Homo sapiens: one gene and its partner. The protein of the gene in region 2 interacts with the protein of the main gene of each other region in a pairwise test. Each region holds a gene or a part of one and is shown on either strand. Other genes may lie near its edges. The genes, in order: DCDC2 and MGME1.

The links.
Region 1: the proteins of MGME1 (region 2) and DCDC2 interact in binary tests that used the Homo sapiens proteins (3 or more experiments, as listed by UniProt).

What each region holds. Positions count from the first base shown.
Region 1 is NC_000006.12:24,283,380-24,293,717, forward strand, and holds part of DCDC2 (doublecortin domain-containing protein 2), read right to left. Parts: intron 7,700-10,338; coding exon 7,553-7,699; intron 5,528-7,552; coding exon 5,473-5,527; intron 1-5,472. UniProt on the Homo sapiens protein: Protein that plays a role in the inhibition of canonical Wnt signaling pathway. May be involved in neuronal migration during development of the cerebral neocortex. Involved in the control of ciliogenesis and ciliary length.
Region 2 is NC_000020.11:17,964,112-17,975,355, forward strand, and holds the start of MGME1 (mitochondrial genome maintenance exonuclease 1 isoform 2 precursor), read left to right. Parts: upstream 1-4,906; 5' UTR 4,907-5,030; exon of another isoform or gene 5,031-5,503; intron 5,504-5,689; 5' UTR 5,690-5,748; coding exon 5,749-6,259; intron 6,260-8,595; coding exon of another isoform or gene 8,596-8,640; intron 8,641-11,244. Other genes in the region: SNX5 (sorting nexin-5), read right to left, coding at 4,264-4,314. UniProt on the Homo sapiens protein: Metal-dependent single-stranded DNA (ssDNA) exonuclease involved in mitochondrial genome maintenance. Has preference for 5'-3' exonuclease activity but is also capable of endonuclease activity on linear substrates.

The DNA of each region.
Region 1 (10,338 bases), on a different chromosome or scaffold from region 2:
CCAACTCAGTTACGCACCAGCAGGGGTCCCTGTGTACACTATGGCAGCTGCTTTCTCTCTTTCTCTCTCAAGCTCTACCAGTCCCTCATCCACACTCCCTTCTATATGCAAAAGAGCAATTCCTAGAAAGCCATGTAGGGAAAAATAAATTTCTAAAACTCTAGTTCTGTGTCCCCTTTGATTTGCATCATGAATTTAGGGTGCTTTCCCCATGGATTTTGCAGTGGTTCCTACAGCCAGAAGCTAAGCTCTCCCCACACAGTCCCCTTCACTCACACCCCTCCTCGCAGTGCCAGGCAGCTAATGATCTATAAAATGCATGCATTCTCCTGGGAACCAATTCATTAAAGGAAAGGAGTAAATTAATCCTGTTAAAAATCGAGCTTGTGACTTTGGATTTACTGGCATAGGAAGTTCTGTGTGGCTCAATGCCAAACATTCACACACTGCCTAAGCCGAGTTTGTGAGAACCTACCAGGCACTGGGCACTGTGCCAGGGGTTATTCTCCTCTACTCAAACGTGACCTCCTGAAAGAGGCCTTTCCAACCACCCAGCTGAAATAGCACCCTCTCTCACTTCCTCTTCCCATGTCTTCATGTATTTTTATTCATGTTTATCCCTGGTGTATATCACACGTATTGTGCATTTGTTTCTGGAATGTAACCTCCGTGCATTTAGTACTTCAGAATCTCTGGGCCCTGAAGCACCAGAACAGTCCCAGGACATCATATGAACTCAATAAATAGTTGTTGGATCAGCGAATCAGTCAATGACAATATACTCAAAGAAGAGTTATAATAGATGTCCGCCCCCACTGCGGCCACCTAGCGGACTCACCTATATCACATACCTGTACGTGTCCCACTGCCTCCTGCTTCTATTCTTGCCCCAAACCATTTCTCTAGAGATACCACAGCCAGAATGAGCACTTAAAAATGTAAAGCAGGCCAGGCGTGGTGGCTCACGCCTCTCATCCCAACACTTTGAGAGGCCGAGGCAGGTGGATCATGAGGTCAGGAGTTCAAGACCAGCCTTGCCAAGATGGTGAAACCCCGTCTCTACTAAAAAAAAAAATACAAAAATTAGCCAGGCATGGTGGCGGGCGCCTGTAATCCCAGCTACTCGGGAGGCTGAGGCAGGGAATTGCTTGAACCCGTGGGGCAGAGGTTGCAGTGAGCCGAGATCATGCCACTGCACTCCAGCCTGGGCAACAGAGTGAGACTCTGTCTCAAAAAAAAAAAAAAAAAAATTTTTTTTGAAGCAAATTATATCACTCCCTCCCTATAACCCTCAAATGGCACCCCATCAAGAAATAAAATCCAAACTCTTTGCATGCCTATATGATTGAGCCCTGCCTGCCTCTCCGATTTCATTCACGGCCTTCTTTCTGCCCTCCTCACATGCCAGGCTCTTTAGCAAGGGCCTGTGTGACTTTGTTTCCTCTGCCTTGGATGCTCTTCTTCCCCGGCCTCATCCCTGGCACAATTGGCTGTGTTAGATATCATTAAGGTCTCAGTTTCAGACAATTTTATATAAATCAATGCCCTGCTACATTTTATTTTCCCCATAGCATTTATCACCATTTGAAACTATTTGTACATTTGTTTACTAGTTGATCGTCTGTCTACTCCCATTCATCCCATCCATACCCTCCCCCCCACACACACATACATGCACACACACACACTAGAATGAAAGCACCATAAATCTAAGTCCTCATCTATCTACCACTATACGCTCAGTGCCTACAGTTCCTGGCACTTAGTAGGAGCTCAGTGAGTATGTTTGGAATGGATGACGGATGGAGTGGATGAATACAGGGTGCTACGGGAACACTGTGGAAAGAGGGACAAACTCTGCTATCATTTTATTTTTCTAAGTCATAGCATGGAACTACGTTTGACAACTTTGCTTTCTATGGGATGCAAATATACCTTATAACTGAGTCTTTGCTTAACGTCACTTCCTCCATGAGGCCTCCCCTGACACACCTATCTAAATGTGTTTTTCTTTTATTGTCTTTCATATTACTGTGCACTTTTCTTTCATTTTTATACTTCATAAGTATCCATTGATTAATGGAATCGCTTGTTTCACTTTTGTCTACTCAAGTAGACCACGAGTATCAGAGAGAGCATCAGATCTTTGCGCTCATTGCTGTATCCCTGGGGCTTACTACTGTGCCATACACCTGGAAAATTCAATCATCAGATGAATTGATGTGATGACATTGATGTATCACAGTATTCACAGCACAGTCTAAAAAACTTACAAATGAGCAAGAAATAAAAATTGCATGTGTGTACCTACACATGCATTTTAAAGCAGGAAATGCTCTACACATTTTTAATTAAAATTTTAGTTTTTCAAATTTCAGAATACTAAACATATCATTCCAAAGTTCAGTCACTGTGAATACAAAGAGTTGGGTCATGACTTTGGTCCTGACATCGACTTTCCCTGTGACTTGGGATCAATTTATTGATCAATTTATTCAATTACAATCGGTCTCTGTAATCATTCCTCTAGCTGCACTGTGAGAATTAATAAGCTAATATCTATACAGTACACAGAAGGGATTCTGCTACAAAGTCCTAAAGAAAAACAAAAAAAGCAAAATACAATTTCCAATCCCTAAATTCATGAGTTTTATTTAGCTTTATAGTTGCTCTGATATTGTTTTCACCTCCTGAAATATTCTTCTCACTCCTCTTTGACCCCGCACCTGTGAAGTTAGGTTGCCTCAAGCCTGGGCCCTCTGTAATTCTCACCGCACCATCTTCCTCTAGGAGCCCCTCATCCATTCTCTCACTTGGCAGCACCAGTGAGACCTGCTCTGTTCAAGCTGTGCTGGGTGATGAAGTACCACAGTGATGCTACGTCTGCTGTTCAACTAGGACCATTACATGGTTGTTCAAATCTACAACTCAGGCCAGGTGCGGTGGCTCACACATGTAATCCTAACACTTTGCGAGGCCAAGGCAGGCCGATCGCTGGAGCCCAGGACTTTGAGAACAGCCTGGGCAACAAGGTGAAACTCTGTCTCCACAAAAAACACAAAAATTAGCCAGGCATGGTGGCACATGCCTGGAGTCCCAGCTACTCAGGAGACTGAGGTGAGAGGATCGCTTGAGCCTGGGAGGTCAAGGCTACAGTAAACCATGATCATGCCACTGTACACCACCCTGGGTGACAGAGTGAGACCCTGTCTCAAAAAAAAAAAAAAAACCACCTGCAACTGCAGCTTCAGTCCTGATGTCCTTGGCAGGCCTCAGCTCTGCCATTTACAACTGCTTGCAGCACACTTTCAACTAAGTTTCCTGATGATACTTCCAACTCAACATGTTTGAAATTACGTAGGTCATTCTTTGCCCTGGCTGCCTTCTTCTTGGCCATAGAACTACCATTTTCTCAAATTCCAAGCTTAAAAACCTCAGTTATCTTTGGCCCCAATTTCTCCATTAACCCCTTGTATCCAATCATCACACAAATCCTTTGTTCCTTGGTTTCTTCCAGAATAATCATCACTTCCTGCTGCCTCTACCACCTCCCCAGTCTAGGCTCCTTTCCCCTCATACCAAGATAGTTGCAACTGCCTTACAACCATCGACTTATCTATGGCTTCTCACCACGTGAAGTCTTCCTCCATGTAAAAGATCTGATGCTCCCAAAATGGACTCAGATTAATATTCTCACCTCTCAGAAGCCCTTGTGGGCTGCCCTCTATTCAAGGACAAACACTAGACTCTTCATTCTGCTATTCAAGGTCATGTAATAACTGTCACCACCTACCATGTCAGGCACATCAGCCCCCACACCAAAAAGGACCATCTGTTCCAGTCAGCCTAAGGGACTCATTGTCCCGGGGCTCGGGAGCAGGAGCTCTGAGCTGGCTGTGTGGATGCAATTCCTCCCCTCCTCCCCTGCCATTTGCTCAGTAGGAGCCTTTGTTTGTATTGTATTGTATTTTATGTTATTTTGTTTCATTTTTTTGAGACAGGGTCTCACTCTGTTGCCCAGGCTGAAGTGCAGTGGGGCAATCTCTGCTCACTGCAACCTCTGCCTTCAATGGGAGCCTTTGAACCTGTCACTTCTACTCTGTGTACTTCCTTTTTTCATTCCTTTTTAAATGTAGATGACAAAGATGCCTGCCTTGTGGGGTGAGGTTAAATAAATCACTACTGTAAAGAGCTTGGCATAGTGTTGAGCCCACAAGGGCCCGGTAAATGTCAGCCAGCGTGACTGCTTCTTCGCATGCCCACGTCTGCCCCAACCATCTCACCCTCCCTTGGATCTGAAGGTCCTCTCCCCTCATCTACCTTTTTCTGAATTTTAAACAGTTTCAAAGGCAGAGCTCAAATTCAACTTCCTCTGTGGACTGCTGCCATTGTACATTCAGTCCTTCCCTCCCTCTCATGGTCACCAATCTCTAGATATTTGATGTTTAGCATTAGCTTGTTTGTTGCCTTTTTAAGCTATCTTCTTTATTTCAAGTAGATTGTAAGTTGCTTGAGGGCAAGAGCTCTATTGATTTTTATTTTATTTTTGTCATAATAGTATAAGAGTCTCAGCTAATGAGTTCTTAATATCTGTTATGCTGAGTTCGGCACTACTTATGTACACAAAATTATTTGTCTTTCTTTCAAGAATTTCACATGATATAACCAAAAAAAAGGAGGGATCTAAATCATTAGGAGACAATATCATTGCCTAGAAATCATTTACTTTACAAAATACCAAAATAAGAATGTTGCTTAATTAATTCAGGGTGTGGGTGGAAGATGTCAAATCAGTTCTGATCACAACTTGTCGGGCAATTCAACCAAAAGGGAAGAAAGAGAAGCCTCAGCCAGGAAGAACTGCCAAGGCAACGCTCTGGCATGACATGGAGCTCACCCCATCAGGGAGCGCAGACTGAAAACACAAGAAGGTTAGGAAATTACCTACTAAATGCTGTCGTTACTCCCACAGAGTAGGTATTTAATAAATGTTTGCTGAATTAACAAACCATGAATAAATGATAAATGGAAAAGATTCAGATGGCAAACTAAATACCTAGAACAATTCTCAATCTTTTCAAGGAATATTAATGAGGATTATACCCCTTTTCTCAGCGAAACTTCCCTTTTAGTCTTCGTTAAAGATAGAAACCAAGACTGGATGATCATTGATGTGACCTACTACAATGGTTCTTACAGTTTAAAGTATTATTGCCAAGATTTTAAGTGCAATATAAATTATGTCAGGTGTATATACAAGGAAAAAATTTTAAAATACATATTCTAAAAAATGTTAGCTCTGTTTAGGACCATAAGTGTAACATTAAAGTTCTAGTGCTGTTTCACATAATTGGTTATACACCACGAAGCGGCTAAGTTTTATCTCTTGGAACTTAATTGAAGCCCAAAGGACAGTCTCTTTGTATCATATAAAAATATAGAACATCAACGAGGAAAGCATCTGATACTTACACTCCCTTTAGACTTTCTGGATCCTACAATAGGAGGTAGTGAAGAAGCTTTCTGACTGTGGAAACAAATTGCAATTTAGAAATCTGAATGTTGTTTACAAATAATGTACAATGCAAGATAATTATCATCCCCACCTGGAAGTCAACTGTTTACTGCTGTGTTTCACAAAAGGTAGATAACATACACTTTAACACATACTTTCCCAATTTCACAAAGATCATAACATTTCCAAATTCCATCCCAAAAGATTTGTAATGTTTTCCTGTATAATATTTTAATCAATGCTTACAAGTAAACTTTTAGTATCACCTGAAATTTGTATAGCATTTTTATCCAGATCCCAAAGTGTCCTATTTGCATTTCAAAAAATCATTTCCAAATGTGAATAATGATTTTTCCAGACTGAGTTAAAAACAAATTTCCTTCGTTTCTATGATGTCTTCTATGTCTACCTCTGATAGGAGAGCAGAGGTAAAACACTGGCATTTGCATTCAGGTAGTTTTTAAACAAGTCGTCCTCACCAAAAAGTTAAAAATTATTTTAGGCTGTAAGAATAAGTTGTTTTGTTGATATCTGTATTATTAGGAAAAGACCCATCTTGAAACCCAACTGAATCTCTCCAAAAATAGAAGGACACATATATAAAAAAAATTCTTATTAATTGTATGAGAAAGGCCAACGTGAGTTACAGTTTTCTTATTACCATCAGGTACACACTGTTGATCACAGCAGGTTAACCTAGGGCTGCTTAGCAAAGATGGCTAAAGATTTGATTTCATGGATGGGTAAGGTTGGTTAGCGATAAGTCAGCTGGTAAATAATTCAAAGGTGCTAGAAAACCATGTGCTCTTGCATAGTTCAAACACCACCCCTGAAATTCCACTTCATCTATTACTTATTTAGAAGCTCTTGGCCAGCCTCTCCATCAAGTTACACAAATTGTGAATTAATTGCAAACACACTGGTGATATTCTGCTCTACTTCTGCGGACGACAACCAAAAAAAATTTTTTTTTGCAATGGCAAGGTGGCCACAGAATCTCTGGGAAAAGCAACAGAGATGGATCCCTGGGCACCATGAGCAAGCCGAGAGATCCTGCAGCATGGGCCAGAGCTCTTCTTTTTTTTTTTTTTTTTTTTTTTTTTTTTTTTTTTTTTTTGAGACGGAGTCTCGCTCTGTCGCCCAGGCTGGAGTGCAGTGGCGGGATCTCAGCTCACTGCAAGCTCCGCCTCCCGGGTTCACGCCATTCTCCTGCCTCAGCCTCCCAAGTAGCTGGGACTACAGGCGCCCGCCACTACGCCCGGCTAATTTTTTGTATTTTTAGTAGAGACGGGGTTTCACCGTTTTAGCCGGGATGGTCTCGATCTCCTGACCTCGTGATCCGCCCGCCTCGGCCTCCCAGAGTGCTGGGATTACAGGCGTGAGCCACCGCGCCCGGCCCAGAGCTCTTCTTGAGTGACTCCGCAGTGTATCTCCTAGGCTGAAATAAAGCATCTTTCACAAATATATGACATTTCATGGAGAAAAACTGTTTACGGTATATTGTAATTAAAAATATAATCCTTAAAATTTTACATGAATTAACTGTACACCCATCCTCTCTATTTGCATAAGTGGGATTATGTTGTTTTTATATTTTACAGTTATTATTAAAACAAGTATAAAATATTATGAGTTTTTTAACACTCTTGGATGTTTCTATCCAAACCAACTGAAAAGTTATTTGGTCTAGCAACTATTAAGACACAAAAACTTCTAATAATGTTTGCTGTAGAGAAGCTCATTGCCCTGTATCTTCTTCACAATAATAAATTTTTGCATTTACTTATAAATTTCATGCATGCTAAAAAAAAACCATGTAGTCTTTCATAACTTCCCAGAAATTATATTTTTGTTCAATAGCTTTCAGTCTCCCATCATGGCAATAAAAACAAAGATCAATGTATACCATATATGCTTTCCATTCTAAGTAATAAATAAGATTATCAATTACATAAAATATAATGGTGGTCAGCAAAAGACCCAATGCTATTTCAAGTGGTAACTAAAGCATGAGGAGTGGTAAGGAGTAAGACTTACCCAAAAGGCCTTCTCATCGTTGACTTGTCAAAAAGTAACTCACTGTAAGGCAGTTTCTTAAACTTATCTCTGCCAACAGCCACATAAAACTGCCCATTCTCCAACTCTGCTCCACTCTCAACAAGTTTTCCTTCTAAAGTATAAAGCCTGTCGAAAATATGAACACCAACAATTAGAATTTTAACCAACATTTAAAGAATTGCTTAAGATTACAAAGTATTCTGGATGTCAAAAAAATTAAAATTACATAGTAAATAAAAACATTCTGTACTTAATTTAGCTCATTTGTTACTATCCTCATTATTGCATTATAGATGCCTCAAAGTTATCAGATTCCACTAAATACTAATGTTATAATGCAGATACAATGACTATCTTGCTGTACAGGGTTTCACCCCAGTGAGTCTGATGATCTGGCATAAGGATCCCTATTGCTGCCATATTAAAATTTTAGAGGAGAAAAATTAACTTGTACAGATCACAGTGCTTTAAATAAAGCTCTGTTTCCATTGAACATTGATTCTTCTATTTATATTTTGTTAATACTTTTTTTTTTTTTTTTTTTTTTTTTTGAGACGGAGTCTCGCTCTGTCGCCCAGGCTGGAGTGCAGTGGCAGGATCTCGGCTCACTGCAAGCTCCGCCTCCCGGGTTCATGCCATTCTCCTGCCTCAGCCTCCCAAGTAGCTGGGACTACAGGCGCCCGCCACTACGCCCGGCTAATTTTTTGTATTTTTAGTAGAGACCGGGTTTCACCGTTTTAGCCGGGATGGTCTCGATCTCCTGACCTCGTGATCCGCCCGCCTCGGCCTCCCAAAGTGCTGGGATTACAGGCATGAGCCACCGCGCCCGGCCTTGTTAATACTTTTAAATTTTATTTTCTTAGCATATTCATCAGGCTGGCAAGCTTCTGACCACATTCTGTGTAAGAACAGCCCTCAACCAAAATATTACATACAAACACACAGAGAACCGGGTCAGGAACAATGGGGTGAGAGGGCAGGAGGTAAAAGAACCCATTGCCAGTGTTAATGATGCAGAACTGCATAGCATTTGTGCTTCTTTCTTTTTTTTTGCCGTCCCTACTAAGCAAAACAAGAGTGAACATTATATCTTCCCAGAATCGAGCAGTTTCACAGTAACCTTCCTTTACTGTAAAACTGCTGCTACGAGCTACAATTAATATGTTACTTATTAAAAGAACAGTCATAATTTTACCAGATGATTTTAAATGTCCACAAAAATTTTTTTAAAGAACAGGAAAATAAGTATTAGAAAACTAAACCAGAAAGACAGTGCATATTTTTTAAGGTTATAAGCAAGAGCTATTAATAAATGGAAGGATTTCAGTATCATCAAAAAGCTTTCTGTCTTCCTATATTACATAATAAGATTAAATGTCATTTACAGACGCAAAAAAAAAAACCCATTGACCTGTCAGCTTGTTTCCTGATGACATAAATGGCCATATCATACAGAACCATGAAATACAATGAAAATAGCCACCAATAGCCACCAACATTCCTGAAATGTATTTGTGTTTTTAGTTAGTATACAGATGGTAAAGTCTCTTTCTTTATAACATTGTACCTCTACTCCTAACAAGTCTAAATATCAACACTTAACCCAGAATTCTATGTTTTTTGCCTTAACTTAAGCTGGACATGGTGGCCTATGCCTATAGTTCCAGCTACTTGGAAGGCTAAGGCAAGAGGATCGCTTGAGCCCAGGAGTTCAAGACCAGCCTGGGCAACATAGTAAGACGCTATCTCAAAAAACACTTGACCAGGGTTTCTGAATACTGGCATTATTGACATTTTGGACCAGATAATTCTTTGCTGGAAAGGTGAGTAGGCTGCCCTGTACATTGTAAGATGTTTATTAGCAGCACCTTTGGCCTCCACCCACTAAACAGTAGCAGTAGCCACCCCATCCCCAGTTGGGACTACCAAAAATGGTTTCAGGCACTGCCAAATGTCCCCAAGGGGCAAAATCATACCTGCTTGAGAGCCAATGGCCTATATCCAAGCACTATTTTTCTACTTTTCTTCAAAATAGTTATATCTCAATCAGTAGTAATTTCATAGCTAGAAATTAAAAACCAGCATAGCTGTGGACTCTGGAAACAGCCAAGATTTGACTTGTTTCCTCTGCAGGTAAGTAAAACGCAGTGAATAAATTCTTTTTGTTAATAGAGACAAGGTTTTGCTATGTTGCCCAGGTTGGTCTCGAACTCCTGGGCTCAAGTGATCCTCCCAAGGTGCTGGGATTACAGACGTGAGCCACCACACCTGGCCCAGCACTGAATAAATTCTAATTCATGATTTTAGCCTTCTTTTATATAACTGTTGTTGCTCTACTTTCTTCTTTTGCTACAAACACAAGAAACATAAAAAGCAAGTTCAGTAAATTTTTATGGGATGCTTTTTATATATGAATATACTGATGCATAGGGAGGGGCCAACCATAAGATTTATTAACGTTAAAGGAAAACGGTCATATCCCAAGAGAGCAGCAACCAAATCTCTCATATCTGCCATTACATTAAGAATTTCACCTATCCTAAATATATACGCACCCAACACAGGAGCACCCAGATTCATAAAGCAAGTTCTTAGAAATCCACAAAGAGACTTAGACTCCCACATAATAGTGGGAAACTTCAACACTCCACTGACAGTATTAGATAGATCATAAAAGCAGAAAATTAGCAAAGATATTCAGGACCTGAACTCAACCTTGGACAAAATGGATGTGATAAACCTCTATGGAACTCTCTATCCCAAAA
Region 2 (11,244 bases):
ATGAAAGATATAGGAAGGGTGAGGGAAGAAGTCCAACATTTTATCACCCACCAGCTACCAAGTATCTAACAGCACAATGTCCTAGCTCTGCGGTGCTCTTGAAAGAAAAAGTGAAAACCCTGACAAGGGAGCCATCTGGATTTGTATTCCTCACCATTTACCATGACTAGAATGCTTAGGAGTGTGCCCTTCAGAAACTGAGCTTTTCAGGCAGAAAATTAGTTTTCTCTCCAGACCATATAGGAATGCCTAAAAAAGTTATGCCAAAATGTAAAAAGAAGAGTCAAGCCAAGGACCCCCATTTTTAAACTTAAGTGTTGGCTGCCCCTCAAACTGCAACTTACTCCTCCTGGGGTACTATGGTTTGCCTTTAGGCAGCATGTGAAGGTGTGAAGATCTCTTTTAGGAGATCTTGTCAGAGTACCTCAATGGCCAATCAGAAAACAGGTATTAAGGGTGAAGAAGCCACTTTTTGGAAAGTTAGATCATGCAGAGAAACTTAATTTACACTTTAATAGCCGTTTCTCACTATTGGGATCATTAAAAGTTAGACTGTTTCCTTAAATACTATTTAACTTCACTACACACTGTTGTGACCACGGGCTATTTAAGACATTCAGGGTACTAACCTATAGATCTGTTCTCACCTAATTTGCTCGAGCATCAAGACCCTGATAATAAAGACAGAAAAATGCTGAAACAGCAGAATTTTAAACCAAGTTCCCCTCTGCAGCACAAGAAACTCAGGTAAGTTTCCAGTGTCCAAAGCCTACACTCACAAACACAAACACGAAGCCCTCCCTTTGCAACCCTCAAGTACCCAGAACCTGCTGAAGAAAACCATCTTTCACCACCTTTTGTTAAGGTTCCTCAGTATTAGTGGAAAAGCTTTATTCTCACAAAGATATCCAACAATGCTAATTTTTACATGGCATGTTATTTCCTTAGGCAAGATTAATAGAAAACCTGAAAAATTCGCAACAAGCACACAAAGACTAGCTTCTGTAACACAACCTGACCCCACCCATATCACACCATTTTAGAAGGAAGTCCGTTTAAACCAGTGATTCTCAAACAGGCAATTTTGACTTCTTATCACCATGGGAGGGGAGGAGGCCGCGTCCTAGCAGAGGCCAAAAACAGTTGCTTCACATCCTACAACCCAGAGGGCACTCCTCAACAAAAGTGATCAGGCTAAAATGTCAACAGTGCTCCCCAGGTTGAGAAACTGAATTTTAAACTCAACCTCTAGTTTAGATGACCACTAGGTCTCACCGAATGAGGAGTTTACAGCTCAGAAACAAATCTAGAAAACTTAACAGCCTTGGCCAAGCACAATGGCTCATGCCTGTAATCCCGGCATGTTGAACTGGATGGTGAAACCCCATCTCTACCAAAAAATACAAAAATTAGGTGGGCATGCTGGTGTGTGCCTGTAGCCCCAGCTACTCAGGAGGCTGAGGTGGGGGTGATCACCTGAGCTCCCCAGGTCGAGGCTGCAGTGAGTTGTGATCGTGACACTGCACTCCCGCCTGGGTGACAGAGCCAGACCCTGTCTCAAAAAAAAAAAAAAAAAAGCCTCTTGGCCATTTCTACCTATGGCCAAAATAATGTGAACAGATAATGACCTTTTAGAGTATTCACAAATGGGGATCTTAAGACACCGAGTACAAGTTACTGAACTAGAACTAAGGCGTGGGAAGCTTGATACGTCATACTTCCTCAACTTAGAAAATAGTTGCAAGGGTAGCATAAAGCTTCAGTCCACAAAGTTTGTAAGTTTGGACTTGCTATGGTATTGGTCAAAGTTCAGGATTGTTCCTATACTAACCAACTGCACTCCATTCTAGCTAATGGAGAACAAAAATACCCCTAGAGGCAGCTTCCACACCAGTTAAACACGAAACCAGAGCAGCAGTACTTAGTCTACAAACACTCCTGAGTAGGTAAGAGGACAGATATCATTCACCAAAGTCCCTGTAACCAAGCAGTAAGTTAAGGCCAAGTTGTTACTGTCAAGGAAGGAGAACCCCCTAGTTAAAAATAGCACTAGGCTGCGAAGGTCGAGTTCAAATACCAGCCTGGCCAACATGGTGAAACCCGGTCTCCACAAAAATACAAAAATTAGCCGGGCATGGCGGTGAGCGACTGTAATCCCAGCTACTTGAGAGGCTGAGGCAGGAGAATCGCTTGAACCCAGAAAGCGGAAGTTGCAGTGAGCTGAGATCGAGCCATTGCGCTCCAGCCTGGACGACAGAGCGAGACTCCGTCTCAAAAAAAAAAAAAAAATCAAAAACCAGTAAATAGAGGACCAGTTAGGAACCAAATTAACCATGCATCTCTTCCCCTGAACTATTTTCTGAGGAAGAAGGCAAACCCCAACACCCTCGGCTAAAGAATGTAACAAAATGCCAGTGTCTGGCTACCAGACACGACTGACACAGTATTCCCTTTCAGTTTTGCTGAATTGGCCAAAATGAGTATTGGGCTAGAATTCAAAATCCTGAAGAATCAAGTATGTCCCCCTACCTTAGTGAGTCTTAATTAACTCCATCCTTAGGGAGAATTCCAAACCAAAGTAAATTATCAGGAGGGCATTTAAACAATTTAAGTAACACACATTTCAGGTAACACACAAAACATTTCAGTTGACTACCGAAATTGTATTATGGCAAAAAGTTGCCCAAGACTTAGTTTCCCATTATTTCATACTTGCCCCAAACTCCCTTTCAGTTAACCATAACACCATCTAGGCCAGACCACAGCAGGTTATCAGCATCAGCAGAGATCAGAAAACAAAAATAAAGCCACGCGTCAGGGTAATTATTTATTTTTATTGTCTCTTTATTCCTGTAATGTAAAAAGGAAAACAATGTCATGTAACTCTCTTCGCTACAGATACGGACAGTTTCTGTAGCCTCTAAAACAGGCAGGAAATGGCCTTCATAACCATTCTCCAATTTTGCTGGAGGATCAGGGTGGTGGAAGTCATTTTAAAAACCAGCTGCAATATACTGTACTACCAGAGAGTGGGGTGAAGCAATTGAGTCCTTTTACCTAGCTGACTCCGAATCAAGACAGCTAAAAGAATGTACCAGAAAGAAAGAAAAAATAAAATGCTACCAAAATCCCAATCCATTATCTACCCTTTATGGAGAAAAGTACCTTTATAATGTTTTACAAAGAATCGTGGTCTCAAGTTTCCACTTTGTTTTAGTAATAAAGAACTTTCAAAAAAAAAACCACTCTAAACAACACCCTCCTGTATAGAAAGCTCTATTTTAATAATTAATGCAATGATACCCTTGTTGGAACAATCCAGCCGCTTTGAAACTCTGGTATTTACTTACTAGATGAACAAGTTTCTCTATGGAGGTGCCTTTAACTTCTCAAGAAATGTGTAAGTTAAGACGGCTCCAAATTACATTTTAAGAGAGCCTTGTATTTTTAGAGGTTCTTTTTCATCGGTCAGAAAAACTTACGTTGACGATTCTGCAAGAAAGGTTGCTCGCAAACCATGCATCGCAAAGCTACCGAGGCAAATTTAAAGAACCAATGAAAAAGAGTGGAGGCTCGTCTGAATCTTTAATTGGCTATGGGAATTTCAATTTATTGCATAAATAATCTTTTAGACCTCAAGATACACGTGACCTAGGGACAGTTTACATCAATGGGCAAGACTTAAAAATAGACACCAAGTTCAGCAAGTATTTGAGCACCTACTAAAAATTACACAACTCCCACAACAACGCATTTTGCGTTTCTAAAGTTGTAAGCAGCATGTTCGGACGCTTGATGCAATTTCCCAAGTTGTTTGGGCCCCCCCCCCAAAAAAGTCTTCTCAGTAAAAGGTGGGGGGAAGGAGGGTATTTTGGGGGCAACAAACCAAACTGGTCTGTCGCATGTTAAGTCAATTTCACGTTCACCTACTGGTCACCACGAAGCCGAGGAAAGTTTTAAAAAGAACATTCCGGGGTCTCCAGAGATCATCTCTCCAAGTCCGCTCGGCACCGGCGCCTGAGCTGGGGCTAAGGTCCCGCGTCTCTGGTTCTGTCCTAATAGAATCCGGGACATCCACAGGGATTCCCCGGGGCAGCCTTCAGTGAAGACCAGGGAGAGGGGCCGCCCGGGTCTCACGGGTGCTTCCCGCGCTGGGGATGGCGGCGAGCAGCCACGGCCTATGGACGCGCAAGGGAAAGAATGCAGCGACCCCGGAGCTCGCAGGGCCGCCCGCCCAGGAGTCTGAGGCTGGGAGGACCTCACCTTGCTGCGGTCCTCCTCCTGCTGCTGCAGCAACTCGGGAACCGCGGCCATGGCGACGCGGGACTCGAGCAGGGGCCGCCTGGCTGTGCGAGGAAAGAAGAAGCTGGGCCGCCGCCGCCGCCGCCTGGGCGCCTCTCGGGGGCGGCCACGGCCCCGCCTCCGCCGGCCTCCCTGCCCGACGGCGGCAGGAGGCCTCCGGACTCCGCCACCATCCCAGCTGCCCCGGGAGCAGGCGAGCAGGGCGCCACGTGCTCCCCCAGAGCAGCCTCCCAGTCCCCGCTGCCGTCCATCTTGGAGCCGGGCAAAGACGCCACGTGGGGCCTACCCTTGCTCCGCTCCACGAGGAGGCCGCCAACCGCAGGGCCGCGACACGGACGGGAAGCAACGGACACTCTCCCAGCAAGACGCGTCTAGAGAAAGACCGCGTTTCGGTGCGGGGGGAATTTATTACTCAGCCCGAGTCCAAGATGGCAGCGAGCGCTGACGTCACCAGATCTCGTGAGAGCAGAAGGGCGCGATTTGGAGGCTCCCGCGCTTCGGAGACGCCGGCCCTTCCGCTCGGAGAGGTACTCCCTGCCTCTAACTGGTGGCGCGTTGGCGGAGGCCGACGAAAGCCTCGGGTGGGGCGTGAGCGCCGCGGGGCATTCTGGACCTGCTTTGCCTTAGGCTGTGCCTAATTCGAAACCAAAGCGCGGGACGGATGAAAGTACGGGTCGCGAGAGGTTGTTCGCGCCTTGAGAGTTAAGCGAAGTGTGGTGGCTTCCAAGGTACCGACACTTGCCGTAGGCTGGGCTTTTATTTAAGTCGTCTTTTCTCTAATCCAGACTCCTGCCACAGGGGCCACCGCCGTCCTGGCCCCGCCAGGGGTCCGCACCCACGGCGGAGCGGGAGGCGACTTTTTGCGGTCACAGTAATGGGACCTCAGCGCCGCCACCAGCTCTGACCGGCGAGCGACGGGACCCTCCAACCCGATTTCCACGTCTGTGCAACGGGTTCATTCTAGACCCACGGTAGAGGGTGTGAGGACCAAATGAGAAGTATCCACACAGAATACTTAGCAGAGAGCCTGGTGTCTAGGAATTAGTCGTCGTCTGTCACCTAGGACTGTGTGGCCGCCATGGGACGGGCTCCATCTTTGTGTTTTTCCGTGTCTCGCACACGCCTCCCTTCCTGGGCGTCACATTCCTGCAGATTAGAAACTGGGACGTCTTGCCTCAAGCTGTCTACTAATTCGCATTTAGTATGTGTCGGTCCTTCGGGTATTGAGTCTTGATTTATTTATAAATTTTTTTTGGAGGCAGGGTCTCGCTCTGTCGACTTTCTTAAGAAAGGGCTCTGTCCAAACATGTCGAAAAAGTTCACAATTTTGATGTGCAATATCATTCTGATGCAGCTTTCGCTTTGATGGTTGTTTTCTCTCCAATAGGAATACAAACATAAAGGCCTTCGACCGTTGCAAATAGACTAAAGTGAAAACAAATCTGAATGAAGATGAAGTTATTTCAGACCATTTGCAGGCAGCTCAGGAGTTCAAAGTTTTCTGTGGAATCAGCTGCCCTTGTGGCTTTCTCTACTTCCTCTTACTCATGTGGCCGGAAGAAAAAAGTGAACCCATATGAAGAAGTGGACCAAGAAAAATACTCTAATTTAGTTCAGTCTGTCTTGTCATCCAGAGGCGTCGCCCAGACCCCGGGATCGGTGGAGGAAGATGCTTTGCTCTGTGGACCCGTGAGCAAGCATAAGCTGCCAAACCAAGGTGAGGACAGACGAGTGCCACAAAACTGGTTTCCTATCTTCAATCCAGAGAGAAGTGATAAACCAAATGCAAGTGATCCTTCAGTTCCTTTGAAAATCCCCTTGCAAAGGAATGTGATACCAAGTGTGACCCGAGTCCTTCAGCAGACCATGACAAAACAACAGGTTTTCTTGTTGGAGAGGTGGAAACAGCGGATGATTCTGGAACTGGGAGAAGATGGCTTTAAAGAATACACTTCAAGTAATTATCTCAATTCTGATTCTATATGTTTGCTATGTTTTCTATAATAGAGAGCAACGGTGTCAAAAGAATGAGGTTTGGTTTTGTTTTTTTAACTTACTAGCAAGGAACTCCCTTCAGATAGTAATTAACATTAAATAGCACTTTATGTGTATTAACTCACTTGATCCTCATGGTAGTCCTGTGGAGTATAGATACTGTTATCCACATTTTACAGATGAAACTAAAATAGATCAAATATTTGACTAAATAATACATAAAATTCACTTGTTTTATAAGCTACCAACAATATTAGAATTGCTTGTTTTCCTTGATTATTGAAAAAAGTCACCTGGTAACAGAATTCTAGTTGTTTGCTAGATAATTCTGTTTAGAATCCAGTAAATACCCACTGTCCTACTTATTAGCGTAAACTGACTCGTAAATTTAAAGACCTTGAAGCAGACCAGAACACATGACCTATATTTAGACCTTGGTAAACATAATCAGAGGTTCTTCATAAGGATCTGAGGATAAATACACTTTAACCTTCAACTTCTAATTTACTAACTTGGACAAGTGAGGAGAATAGCTTCCTTAAATTTAATATTCCATTCAAAAACAAAGACCATTGGCACTGGTGAATTAGCTAGTCCCATAAATTATATAGGGGTCTTTTGTTAAAGGAAAGTTTCACATCAATCATTCCTTTACCCAAGCTTCCCAAAGTGCAGTACATGTACTCTTAGTAGTACACAAACTCTTTCATTTTTGTTTTAAGAATAGTGTACTGACCCTTGCCATAGCCTGGGCTTCTATTTAAGTCGTCTTTTCCCTAATCCAGACTCCTAAAACTATGCGTGTAACACATTAAACATGTCACATGTTCTAAAGAAAAATACTAAGTATATATAGGTGGTATTGGATATGTACCAAATGGTCAAGGCCTTTGCTCCTTATAATATTCCTCAGCTGTGTGGGGCAAGGATTATATATGCAAGAGCTAACTGCCTTCCTAAGATAGTTAATTAGTAGCAACCACCAAACTATTGTCTGCTTTCCAAGCAAGCAACATAAAAATCTTCTAATGGCATCTTACAGTTTTGTATTTGTACCACTAAAATTTAGAATTGATAGTTTTCTCATGAGAAGTTATTTTCCTTAAACCAGGAATGTACAGCTGAAATTACTAATAAGAAATGTATTATTAAAAGGCAGAAACCTGCTGGAACACATGGGACCCCAGGGCCTGTAGCTCTTGGCACAAAGTAAGGAAGTGCACCAGAGAGGAATTTCTGTTTGGAATGTGAATGAGCCCCAATAGCCCAGGCAGAGAGAAGACTGGTTGTTTTTTTTTTCATAGAGTCAGCTTTGTTGATCTAGATTAGCACTCAGCTGTGTTTCTCAGTTAACTCAGTAGCAACCTTAAGAAATGAGCAGAATCGCTTACCCCAGCACCCCGCCCAGACTTGACCGCCGGGACCCAAGTGATTCTCCCATCTCAGCCTGCTGAGTAGCTGGGACCACAGGCGTGCACCACCATGCCTGGCTAATTTTTTTATTTTTTGTAGCGACAAGGGTCTCCCTATGTTGCCCAGGCTAGTCTCCAACTCCTGTCTTCAAGTGGTGCTCCCACCTCGGCCTCCCAGAATACTGAGACTACAGGTGTGACCCACTGTGCCCAGGCAGAATCACTCTTTTTAGAAAATAAGTATTAGTAAGCAGTGGGTTCTGAAATAAATAAAGGGACAATTAGTGTCATGGTGAATAAAAGAAAAAGGGCTCACTAAATTGATTAACGGGTCTGGAGGATACTGGATCCCAAACCCAAGAAGGTGGCACCCAAGAAGAATTACATTTTAAAAATTAAGAAGATTTTTTTAATGAAAAATATTGGATCAGTAATTTCTACCCAGTCTTCTCAAAGGTGAGAGCATAGAAATGTGTCTGGCATTCTTCCAAATACTTGAGCAGTTTCCCAAGCATCAGTTCATCTTTTGAAGACTGGTGGGAATGAGAAAGTCTGACTTATTCTGATTTATATTTTGTGTATAAATACACACAAAGGGATGGGGTTTAGGTTTTAATTTTTTTTTTTTTTTTTTTGCTACGCTGATTTAATCCTGAAGTATTAGCCATCCTGCCAGTTCCATCATGAGAATACTGGAGATGCATGAAGGTTTTTTTTAGTGCACTTCATATACGAGGACTTGAAAACATTTCACTTTCATTACTTTGAGTGAATAAGCAGACTTGATGCTACATGCAGTGAATATTCTTGGATCATTTTTTATTTTTATAAATTGAATCATGTTGAATGTTCTGAGCCTTAGTGTCTAAAGGATCCTGTAATCTAGGTTTTCATGTTTGTGATCATGTGTATATGAAGAACCTAGCCAGGGGTAAGTTTGCAGCGAGAAATGTATGGTCTATTGGCATGGCATTTGCTAAGTTTTTTTCTTCCTGTTTTTAACATGTTTGTCTTCTGCTTCATTAACCTAGTGTGTAGATGAATGCTATACACTTCTTTTTCCTAGGCTTTAATTCCATCAGTCATAAATTTCTTGTAGGTCTTTCACGTGTTAATAATTCCAATTGAGTCAAGTAAATTTGGAGTAGAATAACTTAGTTCCTAAGTTGAATTTCATTTAACTCTCCAAATAATTTTTCAGAAGGGATTCCATTTTTTGCTAATGATAGAATTGACATTTCCAGCTGGGCATAGTGGCTCATGCCTGTAATCCTAGCACTTTGGGAGGCCGAAGCAGGCGGATCACTTGAGGTCAGGAGTTCAAAACCAGCCTGGCCAAAATGGCGAAACCCCATCTCTACTAAAAATACAAAAAAATTAGCCGGGCGCAGCGATCACTTGTAATCCCAGCTACTACGGAGGCTGAGGCAGGAGAATCGCTTGAACCTGGGAGGTGGAGATTGCAGTGAGCCGAGATCATACCACTGCACTCCAGCCTGGAAAAAAAAAGAATTGACATTTCCATCTTTGTAAAAAATAGTTGAAGGCCGAGTGCAGTGGCTCATGCCTGTAATCCCAGCACTCTGGGAGACCAAGGTGGGACGATTGCTTGAGGCCAGGTGTTTAAGACCAGCCTAGGCAACGTAGAGAGATTGCATCTCTACAAAAAAAAAATTTTTTTGAATTAGCCAGGCGTGGTGGCACATGCCTGTAGAGGAAGCTGAGACAGGAGGATTGCTTAAGGCCAGGTGTTCAAGGTTACAGTGAGCAATGATCGAGCCAGTACACTCCATCCTGGGTGACAAGTAAGACCCTGTCTCAAAAAAAAAAAAACTTGACAAATGTAAAGTTGTTTTCCGCCTTTTCTGTGGGTCTCTCTGCAAGCATGTTCCAAGCACGTGTATTTCCTGCTCTGTTTCTCTGAGTATCTAATTGGTGATTTCCAAGATTGCTTCCTTTGCTCTACTGTGTGGTAGATTGGAAACAGATTCTGGTGCCAGGCTGCCTGTCCAGCTTTTTGCTTTGGGGCAAATTAACAGCACTGCCTGGTGGGATAGGGCCTCATTCATTAAAATGGGGGTAACTTACAATCCCTATTTTGCTGGGTTGTTGGGTTTGAAAATTAAATAATGTTTTGAAAGCTCCAAGGCCATTGCTTAGCATAACAGTCCCCCCTCTTTCTCTCCTCTTACTAAGAAACAAGTGAATATATTTCTTGTGTTTGTTGAGTCTCTTTGTGTGTTTTTTTTTTTTTTTTTTTTTTTGAGATTGTCTTGCTCTGTCACCCAGGCTGGAGTGCAGTGGCATGATCTTGGCTCACTGCAACCTCTGCCTCCTGGGTTCAAGCAATTCTCCTGCCTCAGCCTCCAGAGTAGCTGGAATTACAGGCATGCGCCACCACACCTGGCTAATTTTTGTATTTTGAGTAGAGACTGGGTTTTACCATGTTGGCCAGGCTGGTCTTGAACTCCTGACCTCAGGTAATCCGCCTGCCTTGGCTGCCCAAAGTGCTGGGATTATAGGCATAAGCCACCATGCCCGGCCATGTTCCCTTTTTTAAAATGTGTATGAGGAGGGGGCTTACTATGCAAGCGCTTGGAGGCCAACGAGCACTGAAAATGAGGAGAGAGTTCAAAAATCAAGTTAGATCCTGGGATACGCCAACAAATCCAGACACTACAGTTCTTTCGGAGAAACCTGGGGACGAAAAGTAAGGCTTTGACCTCAGAAAATGAACATACAGGAAAAATAATGTGTCCTAATGTGTCCTAATGAAATTTCTCTAGTATTCACATGTTATAAAATGTTAGGAAGAAAGAAGATGTGTCCTCCTACAAGCCATAAATCAGAATTCTAATAATCTAAAGCTAATTAGAAAAATATTACATGTTAAATATTAAATATTAGAATAGAAAAATGTATGAGGGAAAAAAATTGAGACACAGCTGAATTTTTCAGGCTGTTCCAGCACTAAAAAAAAAATACAGGAGAAGAATGTCACATATTTTCCTCTTCCTCCCCCTCCAGATTCCATAATATCAAATTCATAACTTTTCATTTGCGCATGCCTTATTTTCCATTCCTTGTTTGTCACTAATCCTGTTAGTAAAAGGATTCCCCCACCTATGTTCATAATTAAGTTTTGGTCTAAAAAGAACTACAAACAGAAGCACAGTTCCCTAGATTTCTAATTTTTTTTTATTTTATCACAGCCAGTTAACTTATTACATTGGATACTTAAACACATAGTACCATAAACTGGATGTGGTCTTGTAGCCGCCAGATCTTCAGTTTTGACTTTGGCCCAATTCTCCTAGAAGTACTTAATTTTAATTCATTTTATTACCTAACGTCCTATTAATAATCCCGTTGGTTTCAAAGTATATTCTTAGGTTTCACAAGAGGCTGAAATTTGGTCTTAGGGGTTGTCACTTAAAAATAACTAATGTAATTTTTGGCCGGGCACGGTGGCTCATGCCTGTAGTCTCAGCACTTTGGGAGGCCAAGGCTGGCAGATCACGAGGTCAGGAGTTCG